4 linked regions of the Homo sapiens genome follow. The protein of the gene in region 2 purifies or fractionates together with the protein of the main gene of each other region. This does not show direct contact. Each region holds a gene or a part of one and is shown on either strand. Other genes may lie near its edges.

The links.
Region 1: the proteins of UPF3A (region 2) and PARN purify together in Homo sapiens (affinity purification with western blotting, with the first as the bait; one study listed by BioGRID). This does not show direct contact.
Region 3: the proteins of UPF3A (region 2) and EXOSC10 purify together in Homo sapiens (affinity purification with western blotting, with the first as the bait; one study listed by BioGRID). This does not show direct contact.
Region 4: the proteins of UPF3A (region 2) and XRN1 purify together in Homo sapiens (affinity purification with western blotting, with the first as the bait; one study listed by BioGRID). This does not show direct contact.

What each region holds. Positions count from the first base shown.
Region 1 is NC_000016.10:14,573,795-14,581,847, reverse strand, and holds part of PARN (poly(A)-specific ribonuclease PARN), read left to right. Parts: intron 1-904; coding exon 905-974; intron 975-5,571; coding exon of another isoform or gene 5,572-5,590; exon of another isoform or gene 5,591-5,769; intron 5,770-8,053. UniProt on the Homo sapiens protein: 3'-exoribonuclease that has a preference for poly(A) tails of mRNAs, thereby efficiently degrading poly(A) tails.
Region 2 is NC_000013.11:114,286,117-114,294,169, reverse strand, and holds part of UPF3A (regulator of nonsense transcripts 3A), read right to left. Parts: intron 7,912-8,053; exon of another isoform or gene 7,900-7,911; coding exon of another isoform or gene 7,869-7,899; coding exon 7,770-7,868; intron 7,652-7,769; coding exon 7,541-7,651; intron 7,432-7,540; coding exon of another isoform or gene 7,415-7,431; exon of another isoform or gene 6,858-7,414; coding exon of another isoform or gene 6,634-6,857; exon of another isoform or gene 6,384-6,633; intron 2,682-6,383; coding exon 2,626-2,681; intron 2,570-2,625; coding exon of another isoform or gene 2,537-2,569; coding exon 2,378-2,536; intron 2,372-2,377; exon of another isoform or gene 1,586-2,371; intron 1,500-1,585; exon of another isoform or gene 449-1,499; intron 1-448. UniProt on the Homo sapiens protein: Involved in nonsense-mediated decay (NMD) of mRNAs containing premature stop codons by associating with the nuclear exon junction complex (EJC) and serving as link between the EJC core and NMD machinery.
Region 3 is NC_000001.11:11,063,733-11,071,037, reverse strand, and holds the end of EXOSC10 (exosome complex component 10), read left to right. Parts: intron 1-49; coding exon of another isoform or gene 50-64; coding exon 65-138; intron 139-1,307; coding exon 1,308-1,479; intron 1,480-2,331; coding exon 2,332-2,393; intron 2,394-2,953; coding exon 2,954-3,030; intron 3,031-4,289; coding exon 4,290-4,320; 3' UTR 4,321-4,420; downstream 4,421-7,305. UniProt on the Homo sapiens protein: Catalytic component of the RNA exosome complex which has 3'->5' exoribonuclease activity and participates in a multitude of cellular RNA processing and degradation events.
Region 4 is NC_000003.12:142,306,175-142,313,691, forward strand, and holds the end of XRN1 (5'-3' exoribonuclease 1), read right to left. Parts: intron 7,001-7,517; coding exon of another isoform or gene 6,962-7,000; intron 6,585-6,961; coding exon 6,424-6,584; intron 5,640-6,423; coding exon 5,337-5,639; 3' UTR 436-5,336; downstream 1-435. UniProt on the Homo sapiens protein: Major 5'-3' exoribonuclease involved in mRNA decay. Required for the 5'-3'-processing of the G4 tetraplex-containing DNA and RNA substrates. The kinetic of hydrolysis is faster for G4 RNA tetraplex than for G4 DNA tetraplex and monomeric RNA tetraplex.

The sequences.
Region 1 (8,053 bases), on a different chromosome or scaffold from region 2:
TACTGCAACGCTGAACTCCTGGGCTCAGCCTCCCAAGTAGCTGGGACTACTGGTGTGCATCACTGTGCCTGGCTAACTTTTTAATTTTTTTATAGAGACAGGGTCTTGCTGTGTTAACCAGGCTGATCTAGAATTTCTGGGCTCAAGTGATCCTCCTACCTCAGCCTCCCAAAGTGCTGGAATTACAGGCTTGAGCCACCGCACCCAGCCTCCTGACCCTTCTTATAAGGGCACTAATTCCCTCGTGACTTAATTACCTCCCAAAGGTCTCACTTCCAAATACCATCGTACTGGGGAGGCTTCAACATATGAATTTTAGGGGGACACAAACATTGAACCTATAGCACTACCATTTCCTTGGGATCCACTCACCCAATTAAAAGTGGGAGGGTTTTGAGGTAGGAGTGGGAGGAGATGAGGGGAGGAGGAAATCTGCAAGAAAAACCACTGACACTTGCTGTGGTATGGTACTTGGTGCGTAAGAATACCTTTCACAGGCCGGGCGCAGTGGCTTACTCCTGTAATCCCAGCACTTTAGGAGGCTGAGGTGGGTGGATCACCTGAGGTTAGGAGTTTGAGACCAGCCTGACCAACATGGAAAAACCCTGTCTCCACTAAAAATACAAAATTAGCTGGGCATGGTGGCACATGTCTGTAATCCCTGGTCCTCGGGAGGCTGAGGCAGGACAATCACTTGAATCTGGGAGGTGGAAGTTTCAGTGAACCGAGATTGCGCCATTGCACTCCAGCCTGGGCAACAAGAGTGAAACTCTGACTCAAAAAAAAAAGAATACCTTTCACACTTGTTGAACCATGCTGTTAATTTAAATCTGTTTTGGTCTGAACTTTCAGGCTTGGTCTATGTGACTATGAATAATAATACCTCTCTTCTTTTCTTCATTAGGTTCTTTTCTCAGCCCTCCAAAAATTCATGTGTCTGCCAGATCAAAACTCATTGAACCTTTTTTTAACAAGTAAGTAATCAGAGAGTTCCAGTTTCCAAGTTCTCTCACTGTGGAACAGCCTCATATCTTGGGATGTCAGTTTGGAGTTATTGGGAGCTATAACACATTTTTAGATAAGCTGTTTTTCATCTCGAGTGACTCACATGTTTTTTGAAAGTAGAAAGTGACCTTTTGGGGAACAAATGTATTAAAAATATAGGCTTAAAAAAAAAAAAGAAAACATTGCTAGACGTAGTATAGTAGATCTCTTCCAAGAAAAAGAACTGGTAGTTCTGGCATTTAAATTTCCTATGAGGGGCCGGGTGTGGTGGCTCACACCTGTAATCCCAGCACTTTGGGAGGCTGAGGTGGGCAGAGTGCTTGAGGTCAGGAGTTCGAGGCCAGCCTGGCCAACATGATGAAACTCGTCTCTATTAAAAATACAAAAATTAGCCAGGCGTGGTGGCATGTGCCTGTAATCCCAGCTACTCGGGAGGCTGTAGTGGGAGAATTGCTTCAACCCAGGTGGCAGAGGTTGCAGTGAGCTGAGATTGCACCACTGCACTGCAGCCTGGGCAACACAGCAAAACTCTGTCTGAAAAAAAAAAACAAAAAAAACAAAAGAAAATTTCCTGGCCAGGCGCGGTGGCTCACGCCTGTAATCCCCCAACTTTGGGAGACTGAGGCAGGCGGATCATGAAGTCAGGAGATTGAGACCATCCTGGCTAACACGGTGAAACCCCATCTCTACTAAAAATACAAAAAATTAGCCGGCACGGTGGCGGGCGCCTGTAGAAAACATGATTTTCTTAGCTCTTTTATTTTTTGGGGCAGTGTTTGTCTTTGGAAATGTAGCCTTTGCTGTAGACCATGGAACCCACAGGTGATTGATGTTAAATATAGTTCTTTTTTTTTTTTTTTGAGATGGTGTCTCACTCTGTCACCCAGGCTGCAATGTGGAGTGCAGTGGCACAATCTCAGCTCACGGCAATGTCTGCCTCCTGGGTTCAAGCAGTCCTCCTGCTGCAGCCTATGGAGTAGCTGGAACTACAGGCATGTACCACCACACCTGGCTAATCTTTATATTTTTAGTAGAGATGGTGTTTCACCATGCTGAATAGGCTTCTCTCGAACTCCCTGACCTCAGGTTATCTGCCCACCTCAGCCTCCCAAAGTGCTGGGATTACAGGTGTGAACCACCGTGGCCAGCTAAATATAGGTCCAATTATGATTGTTCCCTTACATTTTTATGTACTTGATGTTAAATTCATTGTTCTGCAGTATTTTTCAACTGAGAGATGTTGACTCATTTGTATTATTATTATTATTTTTTTGAGTCACGGTCTTGCTCTTTTTTCCATGCTGGAGTGCAGTGGCATGATCTTGGCTCACTGCAGCCTCCACCTCCTGAGCTCAAGTGACCCTTCCACCTCAGTCTCTTGAGTAGTCATTTGTAAATATTTACACGCTGTAAATATTAAAACAGTAATCCTGCTTCTCCACTAAAGTCAGCTCCTTATAAAATCAGATGTTGGATGCAAACTGGGTTAGATGTGGGCTGCATCTAGTTTATCAGTCATGTATGTGACCAACATGCAGAGCAATCAAAATAAACTTTGATTAAAAAGCTTAGCTGGGCTGGGTATAGTGGCTTACGCCTGTAATCCCAGCACTTTGGGAGAACAAGGCGGGCAGATCACTCGAGGTCAGGAGTTCGAGACCAGCCTGGCCAGCATGGTGAAAACCGGTCTGTACTAAAAGTACAAAAATTAGCCTGTATTCCCAGCTACTCGGGAGGCTAAGGCAGGAGAATCGCTTGAAACCAGGAGGCGGAAGCTGCAGTGAGCCAAGATCACACCACTGCACTCCAGCCTGGGCAACAGAGTGAGACTCCCTCTCAAAAAAAAAAAGAAAAAAAAGCTAGCTGAGACTTTCTGTATTTCTAGATCAATCTAATATTGCTAATACTGTGCAGGACTATTATTGAAAAGAACTAGACAGTAAATGTGTAGGCTTATTTTGAATTGGGACATCTGTCCATTCAGAATTTTTTTGTAAAACCTAGATGCATACCAAGAGTAGTTGAATAGGAGGTGGGATTTGGGAATCCTTCTGTGATTATTTTTTTGGTCTATTTTTTTCCAATCTGTAAAGGAAGAATATTTTCTTCATCATTAAAGGAAAAATATTCCTGCAAGATTTGAAATACAAAATAAGAACTGTGTTTTTTTTCTTTCTTTTTTTTTTGAGATGTTGTTTCACTCTTGTTGCCCAGGCTGGAGTGCAATGGCGTGATCTCGGCTCACCGCAACCTCTGCCTCTCGGGTTCAAGTGATTCTCCTGTCTCAGCCTCCCAAGTAGCTGGGATTACAGGCAAGTGCCACCATGCCCGGCCATTTTTTTGTATTTTTAGTAGAGATGGGGTTTCTCCATGTTGGTCAGGCTGGTCTCGAACTCCTGACCTCAGGTGATCCACCCGCCTCGGCCTCCCAGAGTGCTGGAGTTACAGACGTTAGTCACCGCGCCTAGCCAAGAACTGTTTTTATTCCTCTTTTTTTTTTTTTTTTTTTTTGGTGAGACAGAGTCTCACTCTGTCACTTAGGCTGGAGTGCAGTGGCGTGATCTCAGCTCACTGCAACCTCCACCTCCTAGGTTCAAGTGATTCTCCTGCCTCAGCCTCCTGAGTAGCTGGGACTACAGGCTCGTACCACCACGCCCTGCTAATTTTTGTATTTTTAGTAGAGACAGGGTTTCACCATGTTGGCCAGGCTGGTCTCAAACTCCTGACCTCAGGTGATCCACCTGCCTTGGCCTCCCAAAGTGTTGGGATTACAGGCGTGAGCCACCATGCATGGCCTGTTTTTATTATTATTTATTGGAATAACTTGGTTAAGTATAGGCATTCATTCTTAACCCCCTTAGAAAGTGGGTTTTATGGCCAGATGCGTTGGCCTATGTCTGTAATCCCAGCACTTTGGGAGGCTGAGGCGGGCGGATCACCTGAGGTCAGGAGTTCAAGACCAGCCTGGCCAACATGGCGAAACCCTGTCTCTACTACAAATACAAAAAGTAGCTGAGCGTGTTGATGGGTGCCTGTAATCCCAGCTACTGGGGGGGCTGAGGCAGGAGAATTGCTTGAACCCAGGAGGCAGAGGTTGCAGTGAGCCGAGATTGCGCCACTGCATTCCAGCCTGGGCAACAAGAGTGAGACTCTATCTCAAAAATAAATAAATAAATGTAAGTAAGTAAGTAAGTAAAGTGGGTTTTCTGGACCAGGTGCCGTGGCTCATGCCTGTAATCCCACCACTTTGTGAAGGTGAGGAAGGAGGGTTGCTTGAGCCCAGGAGTTTGAGAGCAGCCTGGACAATGTGGCAAAACCCAGTCTATACAAAAAATACAAAAATTAGGTGGGTGTAGGGGCAGACACCTGTAGTCCCAGCTACTCGGGAGGCTGAGGCAGGAGGATCACTTGAGTCTGGGAAGAGGAGACCAAAAAGAAAAAAGAAGGAAAAACAATTGCTTCTTTTGACATCTCTTTCTATGTTAATACTGACCTTGTTTTTACTTACTTGCAGGTGATTTAGGATATTAAACCTTGATTTTTGTCATTTTTCATGGTTACCCTTGTAGAAAAACATTTGGTAGTTGCCCCCAACATTATCTCAAGCTGATGATTTTAGAAAAATATGCAAGATTTTCTGAAGATTAATTTATTTTGACACCAGTCTTTTCTAAATGTAACCTTTACCAAACATGCATACTCCTAACATAAATTTGGGTGGACATTAAACTGCCCACATATGCAAACAATATTTTATTTTGCTCTCACCAGACTTAACATTTAAAAAGTAAACCTCGAAGGGAAATAAACTTCACTTACGTCTGCATTATTCTAAATTAGCATTTAGTAGCATCAGTTATGCCATTTTGGGAAGCTTTATCAAGTCAACTATTGAGGAAATCCTGAGACCACTGTTGTTTAAGCAGTATGCAAAGACTGAATGTGATATGAGGTGTTTTTTTAAGCCATACTGGTCTAGAAGAATGTCCCATAAGGGTTTTGCATGGTGCCATTTTGTCTTTTTCATGGCCTGGGCACCTCCCATAGTCCTCCTTGCTTTTTTGGAATCAGGAGGAAAGTCATGAGAGAATTGAGCCATGGAAATCAGGATCACGCCACTGCTAATGACAGCCTGTGTGGAATGCACTCTGTTTATATTGGAGGCTGTCTCCTCAGCAAATGATTTACCTGCTTTTATAGCTTTGGTCAGTTTTAATCAATGCATTGAAAACCAAACTTAATGTTAAGATCCTTTGGTCAAATCCAGATCTAAAATCTAAGAGCTAAAAATGCTCTCTGCTTTTGCTTTTTATTGTACAACAGAAAGCACAAAATCAGACGTTTGCCTTATGTTTTGTTAACTGTCTTCGGTATTGTCAAGACACCTTGACCCTTTTATGAAGGTTTTCGGGAAGGTTGTTTTCTGTTTACCTCAGTTCTTAGAAAGAGGAAGAATAAGCAGGTCTCTTTTTTGGCTATCTTCAGTAAGCACTGGAATGTGAAAAGATGAGCTAGATGCCTGCAGTTTACTCTACAGGACTGCTTCCTTGTTTTGAATCTGAACAGGGTTCCGCTGGAAATCTAGGCCTTCCTGGAATGACACTGCTTTATGGTCTTTCTGAGCTACCGATGAGACAAGGAATGATATGCTCTTGGACAAATGTTTTCTCCTCTGTAAAATGGGGATAAAATGATTCACCTTCTGTATTGGTCCATTTTCATGCTGCTAATAAAGACACAACTAAGACAGGGCAATTTACAAAATAAAGAGGTTTATTGGACTTGTAGTTTCACGTGGCTGGGGAGGCCTCACAGTCATGGCAGAAGGTGAAAGCCACATCTCACATGGCAGCAGATGAGAAGAGAGCTTGTGCAGGGACACTCCCATTTTTAAAACCATCAGATCTTGTGAGATTCATTCACTATCACGAGAACAGTGCAGGAAAGACCTGCCCCATAATTGTATCACCTCCCACCGGGTTCCTCCTACGATATGTGGGAATTGTGGGAGTTAAAATTCAAGATGAGATTTGGGTGGGGACACAGCCAAACCATATAATTCCACCCTTGGCCCCTCCCACATCTCATGTCCTCAGAATTCAAAACCAGTCATGCCTTCCCAACAGTCCCCCAAAGTCTTATTTCAGCATTAACTTAAAAGTCCACAGTCCAAACTCTCATTTGAATCAAGGCAAGTCTCCCTTCCGCCTATGAGCCTGTAAAATCACAAGCAAGTTAGTTACTTCCTAGATACAATGGGGGTACAGGCTATGGATAAATACAGCCATTCCAAATGGGAGTAATTGGCTACAGGCTCTTATTACCTGTGTGATTTTGGGCAAGTTATGCAAGTCTGAAATCCAGCAGGGCAGTCAAATCTTAAAGCTCCAAAATGATCTCCTTTGACTCCATGTCTCACGTTCAGATTACGCTGATGCAGGAGGCGAGTTCCCATGGTCTTGGGCAGCTCTGCTCCTGTGGCTTTGCAGGGTTACAACCTCCCTCCTGGCTCCTTTCATGTGCTGGCATTGAGTGTCTGTGGCTTTTCCAGATGCATGGTGCAAGCTGTTGGTGGATCTGCCATTCTGCTGTCTGAAGGACAGTGGCCCTCTTCTCACAGCTCCACTAGGTGGTGCCCCAGTAGGGACTCTGTGTGGGGGTTCTGACCCCACATTTCCCTTCTGCACTGCCCTAGCAGAAGTTCTCCATGAGGGCCCCACCCCTGCAGCAGACTTCTTCCTGGGCATCCAGGCATGTCCATACATCTTCTGAAATCTAGGTAGAGGTCCCCAAACCTCAATTCTTGACTTCTGTGTGCCCACAGGCTCAATGCTGCATGGAAGTTGCCAAGGCCTAGGGCTTCCACCCTCTGAAGCAACAGCCTGATCTGTACCTTGGCCACTTTTAGTCATGGCTGGAGCAGCTGGGATGCAGGGCTCCTGGGCCTGGCCTGTGAAACCATTTTTTCCTCCTAAACTTCTGGGCCTGTGATGGGAGGGCCTGCCTTGAAGACCTCTGACACGCCCTGGAGACATTTTCCCCATTGTCTTTGGCTCCTCATTACTTACGCAAATTTCTGCAGCCAGCTTAATTTCTCCTCAGAAAATGGGATTTTCTTTTCTTTTTTTTTGAGATGGGGTCTCACTCTCTTGCCCAGGCTGGAGTGCAGTGGCACAATCTCGGCTCACTGCAACCTCTGCCTCATGGGTTCAAGTGATTCTCCTGCCTCAGCCTCCTGAGTAGCTGGGATTACAGGTGTGCGCCACCACGCCCAGCTAATTTTTGTATTTTTAGTAGAGGTGGGATTTCACCATGTTGGTCAGGCTTGTCTCGAACTCCTGACCTCATGATCTGCCCACCTTGGCTTCCCAAAGTGCTGGGATTACAGGCATGAGCCACCATGCCCGGCCAGGATTTTCTTGTCTATCACATTGTCAGGTTTCAAATTTTCCAAACTTTTGTGCTCTACTTCCCTCATAAAACTGAATGCCTTTAACAGCACTCAGGTCACCTCTTGAATGCTTTGCTGCTTAGAAATTTCTTCTGCCAGATACCCTAAATTATTTCTCTCAAGCTCAAAGTTCTACAAATCTCTATGGCAAGGGCAAAATGCTGCCAGTGTCTGCTAAAACATAACAAGGGTCACCTTTGCTCCAGTTCCCAAAAAGTTTCTCATCTCCATCTGAGACCATCTCAGCCTTGATTTCATTATCCATATCATTACCAGCATTTTGGTCAAAACCATTCAACAAGTCTCTAGGGAGTTCCAAACTTTCCCACATTTTTCTGTCTTCTTCTGAGCCCTCCAAACTGTTCCGGCCTCTGCCTGTTACCCAGTTTCAAAGTCACTTTCACATTTTTTGATAGCTTTTCAGCAGCCCCCTCTCCCGCCCCAGTACCAATTTACTGTATTAGTCTATTTTCATGCTGCTGATAAAGACATACCTGAGACTGGGCAATTTACAAAAGAAAGAGGTTTATTGGACTTACAGTTCCATGTGGCTGGGGAGGCCTCACAATCATGATAGAAGGTAAAAGGCACATCTCA
Region 2 (8,053 bases):
GGCATTAAAAGAATTTCAATTTTCCACATGATTTAGAAGTGAAAGACCCCCATACTGAGCACAGATACTTATTAAAAGCTAAACCAGGCCAGGCATGGTGGCTCACGCCTGTAATCCCCAAACTTTGGGAGGGTGAGGCAGGAAGATCACTTGAGTCCAAGAGTACGAGACCAGCCTGGGCAATATAGTGGGAACCCCATCTCTACAAAAAACAGAAACAGGGTCTCTCTCTGTTGCCCAGGCTGGTCTTGACCTCCTGGGCTAGAGCAATCCACCTGCCCTGGTCTCCCAAAGTCCTGAGATTATAGGAATGAGCCATCATACCCAGCCAACTTTTCTGTTTTTGACTGCTGACCATATCAGAAACAAATCTATGGTTCAATGATCTCTTCCCCACCCTTTCCTAAGCTATCTTCTTTCCCCAAGTCCTGACATTTCATTTTTTTCCTCATATTGTACAATATTATTGAATATAAGGTATTCAATAAATAATAAGTAATGAGTGATACCTTAGGTTCAAATCTAGGTTTAGTACTGAGGAGATAATGGCTGGTCCCAATTCTGGCCAACACATTTCACACAGAGAAAAATTCCCTCTATGTATTAAACCACCCTCATAAATGAATGTATCAGTCACAGAAAAAACTCAGCAAGAAATACAGAAACTCATTAGTGCTACTGCCAAAGAAATGATAAAACCCGGTTCTGAGTCAGCCTTCACACAGAAAGGCAAAACCAGTGGTTTTCAAATGTGTATTTTTTAATCAGGGAAACTTTTTTTTTTTTAAGACAGAGTCTTGCTCTGTTGCCCAGGCTGGAGTGCAGTGGCGCGATCCCGGCTCGCTGCAACCTCCGCCTCCTGGGTTCAAGTGATTCTCCTGCCTCAGCCTCCTGAGTAGCTGGGATTCCAGGCACACGCCACCACGTCCGGCTCATTTTTGTGTTTTTAGTAGAGATGGGGTTTCCCCATATTGGCCAAGCTGGTCTCAAACTCCTGAACTCAAGTAATCCGCCTGCCTCGGTCTCCCAAAGTGCTGAGATTATAGGTGTCAGCCACCCCACCCGGCCAGGAAATTTTTTTTTTTTTTTTTTTTTTTTGAGAGGGAGTCTTGCTCTGTCGCCCAGGCTGGAGTGCAATGGCGCGATCTCGGCTCACTGCAACCTCTGCTCCCTGGGTTCAAGCGATTCTCCTGCCTCAGCCTCCTGAGTAGCTGGGATTAAGGCGTCCGCCACCACACCTGGCTAATTTTTGTATTTTTAGTAGAGACAGGGTTTCACCATGTTAGTCAGGGTGATCTCGAACTCCTGACCTCGTGATCTGCCCGCCTCAGCCTCCCAAAGTGCTGGGAGGAAAACTTTTTTTTAAAGGAAAATGTAGAGGGTGGAGAATGGGAGGAGGGTGAAGACTGAAAAACATCAGGTACTGTGCTGATTACCTGGGCAACAAAATTATCTGCACACCAAACCCCAGTGACACTTGATTTACCCATGTGACACACCTGCACGTGTACGCCTTGAGCCGAAAATGAACACGTAACACACCTGCACGTGTACGCCTTGAACCGAAAATGAACACGTAACACACCTGCACGTGTACGCCTTGAGCCGAAAATGAACACGTAACACACCTGCACGTGTACGCCTTGAACCGAAAATAAACATGTGGCACACCTGCACGTGTACGCCTTGAGCCGAAAATGAACACGTAACACACCTGCACGTGTACGCCTTGAACCGAAAATGAACATGTGGCACACCTGCACGTGTAAGCCTTGAGCCGAAAATGAACACGTAACACACCTGCACGTGTACGCCTTGAGCCGAAAATGAACATGTGACACATCTGCACGTGTACGCCTTGAGTCGAAAATGAACACGTAACACACCTGCACGTGTACGCCTTGAGCTGAAAATGAACATGTGACACATCTGCACGTGTACGCCTTGAGTCGAAAATGAACACGTAACACACCTGCACGTGTACGCGTTGAGCTGACAATGAACATGTAACACACCTGCACATGTACGCCTTGAGCCGAAAATGAAAGTTGGAAAGTTTAAAAAAAAAAAAAAAAAAAAGAGCGTCAGCAGCAGCCCAACGTGTGCCAGCGTGGGGCTCCTGTGGGGTGTGCTCCCCACTGCACACCCAGGAGGACAGGCACCCAACAGCAGCCTGAGGACTCCCAGGGCTCAGGACGCACTGTGATAACCACTGCTGTAGGATGGAAAGAAAGATGGAAAAGATGGAAAAAAATAACAACACAATATTAGATTAATTCAGAATGTTTTCAAAATTCTAAAGAACTAAGATATGTAAAAAGTGTAATTACTATAGCAGAGCTATTTTTGGAAAAAGGAAATGTTTCCTCAGAATTACCTTAATCCTTACTTCTTTCTCTGCAATTTTCTTCTGTTTATCTGTCTCTTTTTTTTTGCATCTTTCTTCTTCTCTTCTTCTTCTTTTTTCCTCTTCCCGCAAACGTTTCTTTTCTAACTCTCTCCTCCTCCGTTCTTCTCGCTTCTCTTCTCGAATTCTCTAAAGACATGGAAGAGCGTGTGTATAAACTGCCTGGATGAGAATGGCAGAAGCAGGGAGGGTGTTCATCAGGTAAAGGCCAGACCTACCTGCTTTTCTAATTTTCTATTTTTAATATATTCCAAAAGAGGTGTGGTTCTTCTAGCTAAAACACAAAAATTGTAATATTGTATTTAACTCCTAAAGAAAGATGTATTTTAAATACTTGTTTTGAATGTAATCTTTAAAATAAATACGGGAACCATATCATTACTTTTTAAATTTACACACTGTCTCCAGGGGAGTTTTTATTCCATTACTGTCAGGTCAAGTAATTTGAAAGTATCAACAATTTCATACATAGTAGACATCTAATTCCTGATTCTTAAGGGAGGCTTAAAATATTCCAAGATGATATTTTTGTAGGTGCCTTAAATCATTAAATAACATATATTTATTTTGATACATCGCATATTCTGAGAACTTTTTCGTTTTCCGTTCTCCAAGCAACAGTTTTAAAATAACATGGATTCTTGTAATGTCTTACAATATATACTCCATAAAATCCCAATGATAAGACATACAACTCTGGATTGTAGTTTAGAAAATGACTCCACATGGGCCGGGCGTGGTGGCTCACACATGTAATCTCAGCACTTTGGGAGGCCAAGGCGGGCAGATCACCTTAGATTGGGAATTCGAGACCAGCCTGACCAACCTAAGGAAACCCCGTCTCTACTGAAAAAATACAAAATTAGCCGGGCGTGATGGCACGCGCCTATAATCCCAGCTACTCGGGAGGCTGAGGCAGGAAAACTACTTGAACACGGGAGGAGGAGGTTGCAGTGAGCCGAGATTGCGCCACTGCACTCCAGCCTGGGCAACAACAGCGAAACTCTGCCTCAAAAAAAAAAAAAAAAGAAAAAAAAGAAAAGAAAAAGAAAATGACTCCATATGGCGCTGCTGATTGCAGAAAAGGCACCAACTACTAGGGAATGAACATTTCTACAGACTCTATCTTGGTCCTTCGCTTTCATGCCCGACCTCTCAGATCTGACCTGGATGTGGGTGCCCAGGCAAGCTAGAGGCCCCACAGGCCCCACCTCAGAGGGACTTGCGCTGACATGGACAGGCCCCACATCCCACCAACACAAGGACACAAATGGGAAGGGGGAAGACGGGGTCTACTCTGTGGGTCTGTAAGATCTCAGACTAAACAGGGCTGGGAAGAATCCCTGGATGTACCTGAAAACTGACACATCATCTCTGGAATTCTGAGGACCAGGAATGAATCAGGAATCATAGGAGAAGCCCTGGCCAGGGATCCATCACTTGGAACTGAGAACCCCTGACACCCTGACATCATAGATGAAATGGCACCTGTCCCAGAAGCCCTTCCCCAGGGACAGTCTGTGGTTGTAGGGAAGAGCCGATTGTCCCAGGAGCCCTGCCCCAGGCACAGTGGTTGTAGGGAAGAGCTGATGCAGGTACAAATGCCACATTTCGTGGCAGACACAGTTGCCACAGAGAACACTCCCCCAGGGGTCCCTGGGCTGACCATGAACTCTGGCTCAGGGTGAGTACAGCACACTGGCTCAGGTAAATGGTCAGCTCTTTGTAATGGGCAAATTATCTCAAATCAGCCAGGGTTCTGCTCTGCTCTGTGGAAAGCCTGAACTTGTCAGCCAGGAGCCGGGCGAGACCACCTGGATGTGTGGGGAGGCTGACCCCAGACTCCGCTTGCCCACCTTCCTCTTCCTATAAAATGTCTGCCCTATCACCCACAGGGATCACGGGCAAAGTACGTTAGACCCTGAATAAGAAAGTGTTCTACACATCATAAAAGTATGTTATTTATCAGACAGAATACGCACAACCATGCAACAGAACACAAGTAAACAGAAGTCTCAGAGCTGAACCCAGGCCTGTCTGCTCTAAAGGCCGATGCTAAAGGCCGATGCACCAGACTAACTCAACAACTCCAGAGTCCTTGCCAGAAACAGCTTATTAGTATTTCCATTTAACACTTGCTTCTCAGACCTGTGCAGAAGAATCCACTGGAGGCCAAAAGCTTAGAAAAGAAAAAGGTAATCTGCCATGAATTGCCTAAAATTTTTTTTTTTTTTTTTTTTGAGATGGAGTCTTACTTTGTCGCCAGGCTGGAGTGCAGTGGCGTGGTCTTGGCTCACTGTAACCTCCGCCTGCCGAGTTCAAGCGATTCTCCTGCCTCAGCCTCCCAAGTAGCTGGGACTACAGGCGCATGCTACCACGCCCAGCTAATTTTTGTATTTTTAGTAAAAACGGGGTTTCACCATGTTGGCCAGAAAGGTCTCAATCTCTTGACCTCATGATCTGCCCGCCTCAGCCTCCTAAAATGCTGGGATTACAGGTGTGAGCCACCGCACCCGGCCAAGTTTCAATTTTTCATACATAGAAACAGCAATCACAGAAACAAGGAAGACTCTACAGCCAAGTCCTGGAATGAATTAATCGCTCCCATCAGGGATGGTGGGTTCTAAGCCACATTCATTCATTCATTCAGCCAACTTTTGTGAAGCATTGGCTGTGCAGCAGACTCTCGGGGAGGTGCCAGGACATGCCCCCCTCTCCCCACCCCGGCAGGAGCCACGTGTCTGCCCCAAAAAGGTATGTCTCAAAACAGCCCTAAAGTGACCGATCCTTTGCAAGGGGACATTTAAAACAAAGTGAGATGGAAATGGGAGGGGCAGGGAGATGAGGCCTGTAATAACGTCTAATTTGCTGCTTCTAGCTCTTCTTCAATTTATCAAGTTCTTAAGTGAAATCTCGACTTTGCCCCCAATACTGTCCTACCCTCATGTTCCCTTGTGTATAATGGTGCCACAATCCACCCATCTGTTCAAGCCAAGCACTGGAGTCTTAATTCTTCCTGTCCCCTTACCTCCCACACCCTATCCGTCTGTCGGTCCTGTCCAGCCCACCTCCAAAACACACGCTCATCTCTTGGCATCCACAGTCTATCCCATGTGACACCACCAAAGTGACGGGGACAAATAATCAGACCATGCTACTCCCCCAGTGGCTTCCAGTTGCCCTGGAATGAATCTAAATGTCTTGCAGTGCCCTGAACCTCCAACCACGCTGCCCTCACCCATGTGTGCCAACCCCACAAGCCTGCACTCTGCGCCTGCAGTGAAAAGCGACAGCAGCCGGCCCTGCCCCTGGCGCTTCCTTCCTCCACTGCTCAGCACGGCCAGGCTCAGCTCATCTCCTGACCTCTTTCCCTCCCGCAGCCAGTCTCAGCTCCAGCTCCACCACTATCTTGGAGGGAGTCTCCCAACCTCTTTCCCTCCCATATTCCACTTTGTCACATCAGTGGCAGTGATTACACACTGAGGTGCCCTGGTTGGACTATTCCTGCTCCTGCTTCCAACCTGTCATCCCGATGGTAGGCAGAGGCCTTGTGCAACCTGCTTACCACTTGGCCCCATGCTGAGGCCCAGAGTCAGTGCCCAGGCAGCATGCAGCCTCAGCATATTTTGTTTACTTTAGTGATCAAAAGCCTTATTACGGCTAGGTGTGGTGGCTCACGCCTGTAATCCCAGTACTTTGGGAGGCTGAGGCAGGCGGATCATCTGAGATCAGGAGTTCAAGACCAGCCTGGCCAACATGGTGAAACCCATCTCCACAAAAATATAAAAATTAGCTGGGCATGATGGCGGGTGCCTGTAATCCCAGCTACTCAGGAGGCTGAGGCAGAAGAATGGCCTGAACTGGGAAGGCAGAGGTTGCAGTGAGCCGAGATTGTGCCACCGCACTCCAGCCTGGGCAACAGAGTGGGGGGAAAAAAAGCTTTATTACTAGATAAATGAAGAAAGTGAACGGACTATTTCAGTAATATTAATCTTTTTTTATTAATTCAATCAACATCTACTAAATTCCTGAACTTTTCTACAACCATGAAGATGAAAATATAGTTCCACTGGGGAGACAAAACAAGAAGGGAGTTTATGTGGTGGGAGACAGACAGGAAAATAAATGATAAACAATGTGGCTGTCATGTCACATCAATTTTATTGGTTTTTTGAGATGGAGTCTCGCTCTGTCACCAGGCTGGAGTGCAGTGGTGCGATCTCAGCTCACTGCAACCTCCGCCTTCTGGGTTCAAGCGATTCTCCTGCCTCAGCCTCCTCAGTAGCTGGAACTATAGGCACGCACCACCATGCCCTGCTAATTTTTTGTATCTTTAGTAGAGATGGGGTTTCACCATGTCGGCCAGGCTGATCTCGAAGTCCTGACCTTGTGATCCGCCCACCCTGGCCTCCCAAAGTACATCCATCTTGATGGGTGGGCAGGGCACAGCCTGGGCGGGAGAGATGAGAGGTGAAGAACCAGGGCTTTGAGGAAAGGAGATCCACAGAGAAGAGAAACACTACCAGGTGTGTCTGGGACTAAACAACAACAGTTTGCCTGATTTTCATGTTGGTGCTACTGGGAAGTATGTTGGTGCTACTGGGAAGTAACTATTTCTAAAGTACACCACTTGTGGGCATGGGGTGGAAGGCTGGATTTAAACTCGATTCTGTGCTCTGGCTGGGCTTATCCACAAGTTGGCCTGGCTCGGGGAGCCTGGCATTTGTGTTGAAGCAGCAAGATGACCTCACCGCAAGCAAAACATCTCATTCCTATGGGCTCTTGAGGCATCCGTCTGTGACCACTGACTTCAACTATGTGACACAACATGCCTTCCCTGACGCTCAGGAACAGACCATTCATGTGTCTTCTGCACTGCTCATTCGGAAGCATCATAACTTAAAATGATCTTAACTAAAAAAATCACGTGCTCTCCATCAACCAACGCTCAGAAATATTTTCCCATGCTGCCATCTTGCCATTCTTTTGTCAAAACTGGAAATCACTCTACATTTCTGTCAAGCCTGTAACAAGTTTCAACTTGTTATCACAGTCAAGAAAAAGAGAAAAAACGTATATCCTCTACGAGTAAATCTCTCAATAAAGAAAAGAGAAGAAATGAGCAAAACAGACCAATGAGCTCTCTTGTCTTCGCCTCCATCTCCCCCAGCAGAGTCTCAGGGTTGGCACTGGTCTTCTCTTCCTCCACACAGTAGGTTTCTAAAAACTTCTTATATTCTGGATCTAGACATTAAAAAGTAGGAAGAAAATAAATATAATCTTTCCCAACTACGGGAGAATTACATTTGCTCAGTGTTCTTAATTTGGCAGCTTCATAACGTAGCACTTGGAAAGGGCTCACCATCTTCGATGCTTCCAGTCTTGGCATCTTTTTTTCTCAGCTTCTTTTTGGCTATCTTCTGGAATGGAGCAAACTCTACCACTGCAGGATATTCTAGGCCTTTTAACAGGAAACATGTTCCAGAAGCCATTCTGAAATTCTACTACATTCATTTCGGAAAATAATGACCTAACTTACTTAAAGAGTAAGTGTAACAACGACAATGCATTATTACTATTTAAACTATAATTCATCCTTCCAGTAAGAGATTAAAAAAAAGATTAAAAAACCTACAATTTTATTAC
Region 3 (7,305 bases), on a different chromosome or scaffold from region 2:
GGAGATGGAGGGGAGGGTGGTTGCTGGATTCACCAACTCCAGAGACAAGTTCTCTCCCTTGCAGCTGCCCGGGAACAGGCAAAGGAGGCGTGCAAAGCTGCAGCAGAACAGGCCATCTCCGTCCGACAGCAGGTCGTGGTATGTGCCAGCTTTTCTCCTTTTTCCTTTGAAAAACGATGCCCCTGCTTGTGGTCAGGATCTTCCTTGGATATCTTAGGGGGCTTGCCCTGTGCTTTATATTAAGTCCTGACTTCTTTCCGGTTCACCTTAGCTTGGCTATTAGTGTCTACCTCATTTCCGAAACCTCCACAAGATTGATATTGTAATTCCTCTTAACCTTCTTCCACTGTGTTTATGGTAAATATGCCAGACCACTCAACTGTAGTAGTAGAAAAGGTATTGAGGTTACAGTGCTGAAGCTTGTTGTGTGTCCTGCTGTGTCCTACAAAAATGTTGCATTCTAGAGAATGAAACCCCAGAGCACTCTGGAACTCTTTTTTTTTTTTTTTTTTTTTTGAAGTAGTGTCTACCTCTGTTGCACAGGCTGGAGTGCAGTGGCACAGTTGCAGCTCACTACAGCCTCAAACTCTTGGGCTCAAACGATCCTCCCTCCTCAACCACCCAAGTAGCTAGACCACAGGCACACACCACCATTCCCAGCTATTTTTTGTTATTGTTTTTGGTGGAGACGGGGTCTCACTATATTGCCCAGGCTATCACTCGAATTCTTAACCCCTGCCCCCTGCCTTTCCTTTTTTTTTTTTTTTTTTTTAATTTCCTTTTAAAAAAAAAATAGTGACATGGTCTTACTCTTACCCTGATGCCCAGGCTGGAGTACAGTGGTGCAATTATAGCTCATTGCAGCCTTGTACTCCTGGGTTCAAGTGATCCTCCCACCTCAGCCTCCCAAGTAGCTAGGACTACAAGCACGCACCACCATGCCCAGCTACATTTGTTTCTTTTTTTTTGTAGAGATAGGGGTCTTGCTATGTTGCCCAGGCTGGTCTCAGACTGCCTAAAGCAGTCCTCCCACCTAGGCCGCCCAAAGCACTGGAATTATAGGCATGAGCCACTGCACCTGGCCTGCTTGCCTTTCTTAAATGACCTCATGTCATTGTCCAGTGAGGAATTTGTTTCAGCTGACCCTGAGTGTTGGTCCCGAAGTTCCAGCCACAGCTCCTCTCCCCACCACTGACTGTTCTTCTTACCACTTAGGCAGCTGGGTCCCAGCTATTGCTGAGGCCGGTGGAGTTCCCTGTTCCCATGTGCCTCCCTGTTCCTCCCCCACATCTGTTCCTGATCTACAGCTAGAAAATGCTGCAAAGAAGAGAGAGCGAGCAACAAGCGACCCAAGGACCACAGAACAGAAACAAGAGAAGAAACGACTCAAAATTTCCAAGAAGCCAAAGGACCCAGAGCCACCAGAAAAAGAGTTTACGCCTTACGACTACAGCCAGTCAGACTTCAAGGCTTTTGCTGGTGAGGAAGTAATGGGGCCCCATACAGGGACATCTGTGCGCGTCAGAGGGGAGGAAGCCATAAAGAGACCACAATATAGGGGCCAAGTGAGTCCTGCACAAGGCATGGTGCTAGCCAGGAATTGTTGGAGTAGTCCAGAGAGGCCGTGGCAATGTGGACAGTCGCCTGCAGCCTCATTACCACCTCCTCCATGGGAGCTCAACTCATGGTGGCCTCCATGGTGGGTTAGCAAGATCACCTGTCACTTCCACTGTGACCAGGGCGCCATCCTTCCTCACTATAACTTGTGCCCATAAACCCTCTCTCTCTCTCTCACACACACACACACACAGAATTTTGTTTGTTGAAAAATCTCAAAGCCTATGACATGAACCCCTATGGCTGCTTGGGCTGTGAGAGTCCGTCTGCTTTGAAGGGGCTACAGATGGCATTCTCGACTCTAGCAGCCTTCGGAGCAACATGCTCCTTTGGAAAAGAGAAAGCAGAGGCCAGTCCACACAATGGCCCTTTATACAGGAGTGTCGCCTCAGAGCCCGAGTTCCTTATGGCATCACCCAGCACAGAGATCAGAATGGATTTCCTTATGTGCGGGGGCCACTGCTGTAGCCACCTGCCCCTAAGGTCCTGGGACTAGAGCTGAGAGAAATGGGCCTGGTTTTCAGACTGCCCACAGGGACCAGGATCGCTATGTATTCATTTATGTGAGCCATGAGCCCTAGCCCCTCATCGTGACAGGGGTGCTCTCACAGCCAAGGCTTCCCTGAGTGTCATGGTCCCGGCCTCGCTGTGAGCCTGTGATGTGTGGTAACTCATTGACCTGACCGCAGGTCTCTCTCATCTCTTACCTTTCAGGAAACAGCAAATCCAAAGTTTCTTCTCAGTTTGATCCAAATAAACAGACCCCGTCTGGCAAGGTAAGAACTGCTCCTGGAGGATTTTAGCACGCTGGTGGCGCCTGTTTCTGACCTCCTCCTCTGCTGAGAAGACAGGCCCATCCAGGAGTCCATTCCTTTGCATATCTTTTTCCTCACCTCATTTCTTCCCAAGGGCAGACAGTACTGATCAGCTACCCCAGCAACTCATAAAACGAGGCTGTAAAAGCTGGCATGTGGCTTTAAAGGGTATTATTCTGTGTTTGCTACCATGGGAACTATAGCTGCAGGCCAAAAGCACCCCCTTTGGGGCCAGCACAAGCCTGCATTCACCCCTCGTGGGTGTTGGTGCTGGTGCCAGGGAAACAGCGTGGCTGTAGCTTCCACAGGCGCGGGGGCAGGGCTGCTTTGGGGTGCTCCTGTTCCTCTTGCAGCGCATCCTGGCGGCCTTGCCTTCAGAGACACAGAAACATCCTCTCTCAGGGGATCTAAAGTCACTCCTGTGCTGCTAGAATCTTTGGCCACCTGAGCTCAGGTGTGTTTTTCTGTGTATCTTGTGGTCAAGGTGCCCACCCAGCTTAAACGGTTTCTTTTCTTTTCAGAAATGCATTGCAGCCAAAAAAATTAAACAGTCGGTGGGAAACAAAAGCATGTCCTTTCCAACTGGAAAGTCAGACAGGTATGTGGTGGACGGCGGTGTGGCCCAGGGAGCCCAGTGAGAAAGCACCTGCCCTGCGTGGTGTGGTCCGTGGGGAGTAGCTGGGGAGCGAGTGTCCAGGGGTCTTCAACCAGGATGACTCAGAGAACCTCCCACAGCCAGGTCCCTCACGCCACTCGGAAAACAAGGGCGGGAGGTGATTTGCTCTGTGCCATACATCACAGAGCCAGGCACTGCACCCCAGGACTCAGATTCCCCTTGTTCCTGGCTCTCTAGTTACCGTGTGTCCTGGGGTCACCTCAGGGAAAATAGGTGTAAATAGTTGTGAAATTTTCCTGGACCAGCCTATTAGGAATGAGGAAAAAGTAAGCACATGTGGGTTATCCTTGTTGTTGAAGAGTGGTTTGGCTTGGTTTGGTTTTGTTTTGTGAGAGTCTCATTCTGTCACCCAGGCTGGAGTGCAGTGGCACAATCTCAGCTCACTGCAACCTCCACCTCCTGGGTTCAAGCAAGTCTCTCACCTCAGCCTCCCGAGTAGCTGGGATTACAGGTGCCTGCCATCATGCCCGGCTAATGTTTTTTTTTTTTTTCTTCTTTGAGATGGAGTCTCGGTCTGTCGCCCAGGCTGGAGTGCAGTGGCACGATCTCTGCTCACTGCAAGCTGCGCCTCCCGGGTTCACGCCATTCTCCTGCCTCAGCCTCTCGAGTAGCTGGGACCACAGGCGCCCGCCATGATGCCCGGCTAATTTTTTGTATTTTTTAGTAGAGACGGGGTTTCACCATGTTAGCCAGGATGGTCTCGATCTCCTGACCTTGTGATCCGCCCGCCTCGGCCTCCCACAGTGCTGGGGTTACAGGCGTGAGCCACCGCGCCCGGCCTGTTTTTGTATTTTTAGTAGAGATGGGGTTTTGCCATGTTGGCCAGGCTGGTCTCAAACTCCTGGCCTCAATTGATCCTCCCGCCTTGGCCTCCCAGAGTACTGGGATTACAGGTGTGAGCCACTGCACCCAGCCAAATGTTTTTGTTAAAAACATAAAATCCTAATAATTAAGCCGACCCTGAGGTCAGGGGACTTGCCCGAGGGCAGGAAAAACAGGTCTGCCTTCTCAAGATGCTGCTCAGCTCAGCCAACTCTGGTGGGCCGCCGAGTTCTCTGGGGCCCCTGAGCAAACCATTCTTCCTCTGTTCTGCATGATTAAGATTTGCACCATTTTGTAAACCATCTGAGAACATCCAACCAGCCCGGAAGAAATAACTGTTGTTTTTGTACTCTCTGCAGAGGCTTCAGGTACAACTGGCCACAGAGATAGTCCTGGAAGACACGTGGCGCCTGTGGACCGGAAGCACCAAATGCTGGTGCTGCTTTTGTACATACATATTTTTAAACCATTAAAATTCTTCCTGAAGAAAGCTGATTCCTGACTTTTATTTTGTTGCCGCCACAGCTCTGGCAGGTTGCCATCCTGTTCAGGCAACCATCTTCAGCTGTCTGTGGGCAGGTGAGTGTGCTCCGGGGGTTATGGTGACTTCTAGAAAAATCCAGAGCCGGCCGGGTGCGGTGGCTCACGCCTGCAATCCCAGCACTTTGGGAGGCTGAGGCAGGCGGATCACGAGGTCAGGAGATCGAGACCATGCTGGCCAACACGGTGAAAGCCTTTCTCTACTAAAAATACAAAAAATTAGCCGGGCATGGTGGTGGACGCCTGTAATCCCAGCTACTCAGGAGGCTGAGGCAGGAGAATCGCTTGAACCTAGGAGGCGGAGGTTGCAGTGAGCCGAGATCACGCCACCTCATTTGAGCCTGGGCAGTAGAGCAAGACTCTGTCTCAAAAAAAAAGGCAAATGCAAAGAGAAAATTTTAATCATTTGTAGTCCTGTCACACAAAGATGCTTTTTTCCTTTTTTTGAGACAGGGTCTCACTCTGTTGCCCATTCTGGAGTGCAGTAGTGTGATCCTAGCTCACTGCAGCCTTGACCTCCCAGGCACATGCCACCACACCTGGGTAATTTTTCTTATGTTTTATAGAGATGGGGTCTTGCTGTGTTGCCCAGGCTGGTCTTGAACTCCTGGCCTCAAGCAATCCTCCTGTCTTGTCCTGCCAGTGTTGGGATTTCAGGCATGAGCCACCACACCCAGCTGAGATTAACATTTTGCTGTATTTCCTTATAAGCTTTCGCTATGTGTATATAGATATATTTTTAAAATATATCTTGGGTTCAGGTTTCTATCATTTGTCACCTTGAAAGTTTGTGTTATGACACTTTTCTCAATCTAAAATTTATTTTCGCCAACCCCCATTGTTAAACGCTTAGGTTTTCATTTTTGGTACTATTCTTAATAATGCAGCACTCACTAAACTTTTATATAAATTTGTGACCCAGTCTCTGATAATTTCTTTAGAACTTCATTTTATTTTAATCCTGAGATGGGCTAATAAATCAGGAAAGCACAAAATGCCATTACTTTGGTTTTTACAAATACTTAACCTAGAAACCTTTTTTCTTTGAAATTCATCCCACAAAGTATTGAGATTGCCAACTGTATATGATAACCTTTGGGGGGTACCAAGCCAAATCACACATCACTGCCGTCAGAGAGCTCCCACTCTTGAACAGCAGAGAACAGCCCTGTCCTAAGATAGGCTGGAGTTTGTTTTAGCTAGGACTAGACTGGTTGAAAATGACAGAAAAGCCAAACTATAGTGACTTTTAACAAGAGAGATGATTTTCCTCCTCTTTTGTAAACATAGTTGGCCCAGAGCTAGTGTGATGCTCATGATCATCAGACACAGGCTCCTATCTTGTTTTACCATCCTCAGCTCAAACACAAGGCTGCCGCCTCATGGTGCAGGGTGACTGCCCTTGCTCCAGCCATTACATTCTCATTCCAGTCTGCTGGAAGGAGGAAAGAACAGCACCCAATCTCTTTGAATAGGATACTGCCCATTTCAACTTCCCATTGGTCAGAACTTAGTCACAAGACCACAGCAAGGGGTACTAGGAAATATCATTATTTCAGTCATCCGTGTGTCCAACTAAAAGCCCAGGGTTCTACTATAGAATTTGGGAAGAACAGACATCGAAGGACAAAGAACAGTCACTGCCTAAAAATGGCAGTCTCTGCTATAAAAAATTGACAAGCGGAATTTTTTTTTTTTTTTTTTCCTGAGACGGAGTTTCGCTCTTGTTGCCCAGGCTGAAGTGCAATGGCACGGCACAATCTCGGCTCACTGCAACCTCCACCTCCTGGATTCAAGCAGTTGTCCTGCCTCAGCCTCCCAAGGAGTTGGGATTACAGGCGCCTGCCATCACGCCCGGCTTATTTTTGTATTTTTAAGTACAGACAAGGTTTCACCATGTTGGTCAGGCTGGTCTCGAACTCCTGACCTCAGGTGATCCACTCACCTCAGCCTCCCAAAGTGCTGGGATTACAGGCGTGAGCCACTGTGCCCGGCCTCACAGGTGGAATTTTTTTTTTTTTTTTTTTTTTGAGACAGTCTCGCTCTTGTCACCCAGGCTGGAGTGCAGTGGTACGATCTCAGCTCACTGCAACCTCTGCCTCTCGGGTTCAAGCAATTCTCCTGCCTCAGCCTCCCACGTAGCTGGGATTACAGGCGCCCACCACCACACCCAGCTAATTAGTGGAGACGGGGTTGTACCATGTTGGCCAGACTGGTCTTGAACTCCTGACCTCAAGTGATCCGCCCACCTCAGCCTTCCAAAGTGCTGGGATTGCAAGGCGTGAGCCACGACGCCTGGCCAAAGTGAGAAATTATTTTCTCCTGAGGATGGCCTGAGAGGCCTCGTGAAAGGCGCATTCGGACTGGACCCTGAGGAGCAAGGGACTTCCAGAGAGCTCTATGGCAGCGCAGCTCAAAGCGGAGGTCTCTGACAGCCCAGATGAGGACTTGTCAGAAAGAATCCAGTGCCACCTAGAGCCTGGAGGCTGCCAGGGCCGCTGTGCTCACCCGTTAAAGTGATGCCGCACCCTTTCTTTGGAAGTTTTCCATATTGGTTTTGTCTGTGTGACAATGTTTTTCTGTTTGTTTGTTTGTTGGTTTGTTTGTTTTTTGAGGCAGAGTCTCCCTCTGGCGTTCAGGCTGGAGTGCAATGGCATGATCTTCGCTCACTGCAATCTCCATCTCCTGGGTTCAAGAAATTCTCCTGCCTCAGCCTCCCAAGTAGCTGGGATTAGAGGTGCCCACCACCACGCCTGGCTAATTTTTGTACTTTTAGTAGAGATGGAGTTTCACCACGTTGGCCAGGCTGGTCCTGAACTCCTGACCTCAGGTAAT
Region 4 (7,517 bases), on a different chromosome or scaffold from region 2:
AAGCTATGAGGATGCAAACGCATAAGAATGACACAATGGATTTTGGGGGTCAGAGGGAAAGTGTGGGAAGGGGCCAAGGGATAAAAGACTACAAATTGTGTGCAGTGTATACTGCTCAGGTGATGGGTGAACCAAAATCTCACAAATCACCACTAAATAACTTATTCATGTAACCAAACACCACCTGTTCCCCAATAACCTATGGAAATAAAAAAAATTAAAAAATTGGCCAGGCATGGTGGCATGTGCCTGTAGTCCCAGGTACTCAGGAGGCTGAGGCAAGAGAATCGCTTGAACCTGGGAGGTGAAGGCTGCAGGGAGCCGAGATCTCCAGCCTGGGCGACAGAGCAAGATTCTGTCTCAAAAACAAACAAACAAAAAGACTAATGTTTCTACTTTTGATATCAGCATAGTAATAAAAGAACAAACAGCTTATAAAATCATTCTCAAGTCTTTAATTAAAATCCATAGAGCATTTAACATGAACAGATGTTTAAACTCTTTCAGTGACTCTCATATTTTAAAATCCTTTGCACAGCATCGTGAGGCTAACTTCATGCTAGAAATCTACGGATAACGTAACACCACAAAAATACATTCGGAGTCCATTCCAATGCAAGTTTAAAACACTTTAATTGGCAGACAATGTAAAGATATTTAAAATCAAAAATTACAAAATGAGCACATAAAAGTCTTCCCTTTTGAATTTTTAATAAAATACTTCTCTGTATAAGATCTAATGAAAAATTCCAGTTACTTATAAAATAGTTGAGAAATCAATTAAGATATGTATCTATATATGTATGAATTACACTTTTGTTTAAATGAACAAAATGTTGAACACTTCAATGACAGCACAGCATCTATTACTCACATTAAACTAGATGAAAATACTCAAAGAAGCAGTTGGATACAGGCAAAAGAAAATATGATACTTAAAGCCAAAAGACAAAAAAATCCAAAAAACGAAAACAACCTCCCCATCCCCCACCAAACCCTTAACTGTAAGGGAAAGAAAGGAAGAGAGAACTTAAAGCTAACTATGGACCAAATTCTCATTCTTTTTAATGAGAAACAGCATGAGAATTTGGCTTCAAATTACTAAAACAGCTACAGAAACCTATTTGGCCTGGACAATTTAATAGTATACCAACTGCTGAAACAACCAAGTGCAGTTGGTGTACGGCTGGAGGGAAAAAAAAAAAGACTTTTTACAGGTTTAACTTTGTAAAAAAATGTATCTTTTGGAAACCATAGTCTCCTTCACAAATTGCACTTGAGATGGCTGAATGCATTGATTGAGCAAGGCATTATTATTTGTTCACTGACACACACACAAAAGCAGCTACAGATAGTTGACATTTTGGACTACTAAAACTATTTTATACATGTTTTTCTTCTTTAAGAAAAGGATCTATGATGTCTGTGAAACTTAACGGCCTGTCTGCTCTGCCATGTTTCTGGAGACTTGATGCTGGTTCAACACTATCTCTTACTGTATTGGAGAAGTTTGATGGAAATATGAATAAAGTCAGTCCGAACGACATTAATTTCTGGAATTTTAAGCTTTATCTTGACTAGGAAAGGAAGCTCCTGCAAAACTGATGGTTTCACTGACAAAGCTTACAAAATGTATATACTGAGCACTGCCAGTTTGAGTACTATAATTTATCTCTAGAAAAATGACAAATGAACTTCTGCAATTGATTTTTAAAGACAGAGAACGACTTTCACAGCCACTTCTCTACAATAAATTAATTGTCTTCTACAGTAAAAACAAAATTTGGAAGCAACATGATACCAAGAAATACAGCAAGCTCATAAGGCTGAGAAATTGTACAGTTGCTTTAAAAAACTGTGCTCTAAATAATGGGAAGAAGCGTGACAGAACTAACTTGAGTGAAGATCTGCACAGCTCTATCTCATATAATAAAAGTAAAAATTAGACAACCACTATAAACAGTTATGACTAACACAAATAGAACACATAAATAAAAAGTGAGTAAAAAAGACCTTACAGTTTATCTATTTCCTTGTGCTAGAAAGATACGGTATAGTCCAAAAATGCAGTGACTGGGTATGTCTTATTTAACTGTTTTTCTTCTTCCATCTGCCTCCCTCTCTCTGCCTCCTCTCATTAAAACCAAGAATCTAGCTTAGTTTGGAAGTAGCAGTCTAAAATGAAAGCAGGTACCTGATCATAGAAAGAAACAATAAAAAAACTTGCATCAATAGTTCTTCATTCCTCCACCAATCGGGAAAAAAACCCTTCAATCTTTATTAGTTACCCCTTTGAAAAGCAAGAAAAATCTTAAATTGAAACCAAGGTTCAGTAGAGGTGACTTTAATTTTTTTCTGCAACTACAACTGAGTCTTAGATGTTTAAGACTTTAGTCTACATGATGTTTAAATCAATTAATACATTCAAATTCTAACGCTGAGGTAATTATTAGGTAATGCAGGAAAATGTGAAAAGGAACGAGACTGGAAGGAGCAATCTTCAAAATTCACTTAAGTTGCTCAAAAAAGAAAAAACTTATTGAATAGAAATATTTAGAAATAATGTTTCAGTTAGGAGACAAAGGCTTAAATAGATTGAAGTGCTCTAGTTATGTGGAAGCATAAAGCAATTTGGGGAATCTGTCCTATGCCCTAAACAGTCCACCATTTTCACAAAAAGTCCTCAGAAGATTCAAGTTGAATGAGCATATTTTTAAACTTTGGGGGTGGTCTTAGTCCACCCCATCTCAAAGAGAGAATTTTAAATTTCTTGAAGTCCAACTGCTTTTCAGATATACTCTAAATTCCAGGTCTATCAACAGATTGTTTCCTCAACATGGGGCAGAAATGGCCTCTGCTTCTTACATCCTCCATAGGGAGGGCACATCTCCCATTGACCTCAGGCCCACATTTAGAATGGGTCTACAGGGGGAAAAGAATAGAGAATGCCTGACCACTATCCAGCCATTATGGAGCTCTCTCCTATCTTAATCTCTTCTCAGTTTTGACCTTTAGAATAATAATGTTAAAAAAAAAGTAAGGATAATAAAACTTTTTTCTTTTTTTTGAGACAGAGTCTTGCTCTGCTCTCCAGGCTGGAGTGCAGTGGTGCAATCTCGGCTCACTGCAGACTCTGCCTCGCGGGTTCAAATGATTCTCATGCCTCAGCCTCCCGAGTAGCTGGGACTAAAGGCATGTGCCATCACGCCCGGCTAATTTTTGTATTTTTAGTAGAGACAGGGCTTCATCATGTTGGCCAGGCTTGTCTGGAACTCCGGACCTCAAGTGATCCGCCTGCCTTAGCCTCCCGAAGTGCTGGGATTTGAGCCACTGCGCCTGGCTGGAAAATAAAACTCTTTCACTGCCTATCTGTATAGAACTGTCAGCTTGCTGTGCTCAAATATTGGTCAAGTATCCTTATGGGTTTAGTGCACTATGTCTACTGAAATTTCCCTTTGGAGTTTTCAGAAGATGGCAGGTGCCGCTTCTTCTATGCTCTAAAACAGATGTGAGCTGCATGCTATTTATATAACTGTCACACAGGAGTAATGAGTGAGGCAAATTCTCAATGCTGGAGTTTGTACAGCTGAGGTGAAACATTTCACACTTTAAAGTAGGAAGAGGTTAATATAACATTACTGTCACAATTTAACTTTTCTTTGTATTACCATAATAGATGTTTCCTTTAAAAACAAAGAGAGAGTTTATGAGGCAATAATTATACACATTGAGGATTTACTTGAGCCTCATTACTCAAGATCCCACTACAGATAAAGAAACAATGTTGGGAACTGATAAACATCTGAACTTATGAAAATAACAGAAAATAAAATCATGGAAACTTATACGACTATGATAAATGACAGATAATGAATATTTCTCTCTTATACTGAAGGCACTGCTAATACACAAATATCCTGCTAACATTTAAACTCTGAAATCAGCAGTTAGTGAAAGGAGTCCATTTAGTTTAATACCAGCATTTTAAAAAACAAGTAAGACTACTTTAAGAGTCATGGCAGAGTTTCCAATGAGTTACATGAAAATCAGATATAACAAGCTGCTCCATATAAAGATTGTGGTTCCTACTTTTAAAAAAGTATGCTATAACTTACTTCCTTAAAAATATAAGCATATCACAAAAACTAAAGAATAAATATATATATATATATAAACATAGGCCCTGCTGAGAAATCGTCATAAATTCTAAAATAATTTCAACAGTTACAGCTTGAACCACACATTCACATATGACATGCAAAGAGAGAATCCCAGCATCATTGAACAGTTCAGCATAAAGCTAAAAATATAGAATCAGAATGAAATAGGCAGTAAATAATGTATGTCACAAACTGATGACTGTGCCTCCTATATTGTAGCACACCTTGGAACTTAAACAACAATTAGAATTTCTTCAGTCCCAAGAAGCACTACATACCGACCAACTATGAAGCTCTCATAAAATGTCAGGTAAGCAAATAAAAAGCTATACAAAATAATACAGTTTATTAATTAACATGACTAATATTTCATATTTTATTTTGTTAGAAGATTAATTTGTAATCATTGTACCCTGTAGATTTTGAAACAATTTTACTAGAAATTACTAATGCTGGTTCTTGAGTAACCTAAAAAATTGTATTTACTCAAATTTAGAATGCTATTTATAGTTCTAAGCAGTTAGATGAAATATTCTGATTATTCTAAAGTTGCTTTGGTACAAAATTTAGAATAAAGCAAAACTGGCAGCACCACAACAAATGTGATCCTTTCACAGCAGGTCTAAAGACCCTCAGAGGCAACAAAGCATAAGTTAAAACACACATAAATAAGAGCCATTCTCCTGACAATTTTCTTACATCATTAAAAAGAGAAATAAAATCCACATTCAGTAAGTTATACTGGAGGCCCAAATTTCATGCTCCATGTAATTATTCCTCAATGATAGTGTAAAAAATGCTTATTATTGCTAACTGATGTCTAATTCATAGTTCAGGATGCTTCAATCATGAGGCCAATGATTAGAGTGGTACATTTTAATGTTTAGTCCACTGATACTGTGATATTATTTTAATGCAAGGTTTAATTTAGTTTTTTATTACAGATTTATTGAGGTATAATTGACATACAACAAACTGCACATACTTAAAGTGCACAATTTGATACACAGTCTTTTAAACAGCATGAAAAGTGCCTGATAACTTAAAAATGAAAAAAATTTCAATTTACACATATTATTTTAAAATAGTACATTCTAATTTTTATGAGACATAGATATGTATTTATAAAAAGGTAGATGGAAAGAGAAGAAATTAACTTAATTCTAAGAGCCAAATTTACTCAGAAGGTTTAGAAACACCAAAATTAACAGCCAGTTTTCTTGATTTTCTTCTTGAAGAAGAGATTGGTGTTGACTTATGGTGAGATATACTATGGCCTTGAGAGGCAGTTTCAACTTGAAAAGAAGATGCAGGTTGAGCAATCGGAGAGGACTTCAAAGAAGCTGATGAGCTCTCCCGTGGACTTACTTTGACAATGTTGGAAGAATCTGGCTGGCTAGTCTGAACTGGAGTGGCTTGAGAACTCTGGGCTTCCTTATTCTCAAAGTTCTTTTTGTTTGCAACCCTTTTTTTAGTAACCTGTTAGGAATAAAAGCATCACTAATTAATAATGTAGGCAAAAAATTAGCTAGTGTTGGAAATTACCATAAACCATGCATGCTGTTAATATTTGTCAATCACAGCTGATCTGTGACTTCCACTTATAATTGCCAAGTAAGACTTTAGTAATTCAAAGGACTTAGTTACAAACAAAATATTTAAAATTCTTGGGCTGTGTGCAGTGGCTCACAACTGTAATATCAGCACTTTGGGAGGCCGAGGCAGGTGGATCGGTAGAGACCTAGGGTTCGAGACCATGGCAAAACCCCATCTCTACAAAAAAATTACAAAAACTAGACAGGCATGGTGGCACATGCCTGTAGCCTCAGGTACTCGGGAGTCTAAGATGGGAGGATCACTTGAGCCCAGGAAGTCAAGGCTGCAGGGAGTCGAGATTGTGCATGGGCTGCGTTCCAGCCTGGGCTACAGAGTGAGATCCTTCTCCAAAAAAATGAATAATAATAATAATAATAAAAATACAATTCTTCATAGGTTATTTTGAAAATATTTGTGATTTTATTTATATTACTGATTTTAATCAATCTGTATTAGAATAGCATATTACTTGGTACAATTATTGTTTATTAGAACACAAACTCAGAGAGCAGAGACAGGTCAGACTTGTCAACCATTGCCTTCTTACTACCCACACTAGTACTGAACTTCTAGTTGGCACTGAATAAGTAAACTGAATAAAAAAATGTTTATCAATAGTCTTTCAGCATTAAACAAATAATTATCTTAAAAATATTATTTTTCTTACCTGCAGAGGTATAAACTGATTGTGCACACCCCCTGGTATTCCCCCAGCCATGGGCATGGTCCCAGAATATAAAGTATGATGGAAGGGCTTCCCAGGAACTGGCACCGATGGTCCCCATGGCATTGAGCCAAAGAGATGAGACGACGAAGGCATTATATTAGCTGTTAAAAACCAAGGAAAATTTTTCTTTTAGTAAAATGGTATCATCAAAGCTCTGAAATTTGAGACCTCCTTCTGCTAGCCTTTTTGGGCTTTTTTTTTCCCCTTTGGCAAAAGGCCTACACTTACTTCACCTATAATTACTCTTCCTTACAACATTCAACCTCAGGATCCTTTCCTAGGACTGTGTGGACTATCTACACAAATGAATTTATCATTATACTGGCCTGAAAAGGAGAATACTACTACTAATATCATATGCTGATACAAGTTTTAGGAATATTTGCAATTATATTTATAAAAAAAATAAAAGGGTCATGAAATTGTCCCTTGTGAGAGAAAAGCTTGGGCACAAATAGAGAAATCTTAAGGATCTCACCTGCCCCCAATGCATAGTTGCTTCCATAGTGATCCCAGCCTACAAAAAAACCAAAAAACCTCAAGTCCTGAAATCTCATCACCTTCATATGACAGGTAGAATCTTTCTTTTCTCTATTTTAATATTTGAAGTCAAGGCCTTTTTTCACTTACAGTTTGTTTATTAAAAATGTAATGAACCAATGGGTGCCAAATCTAATTTGTATATCTGAATCACTTGAGGAGTTTGTGAAATACAGATTCCTGGACAGGGCCTCAGACCTAGTAAGCCAGACTCTGAGGGGCCCTGGAGTTTGTATTAAGCTCCATAGGCGATTCTTATGGAGACAGCCTGTACCAGTAGAGCATTTGAAAACTACATTAAACAGTGACATTCAAGGCACCAGCACACGCCACTGAAGAAGATATGCACTATGTTCAAATATTCTTTTCATAGAGATAAAAAGCAGCCAGACCTGTAAAACAGTATAGCTTAATTAAAGTTCAGCTATTTAAGACACTTTTAGGTTAGGAGAGAAGAATCATAATATATTTCAGTGTTATGAAATACACATACA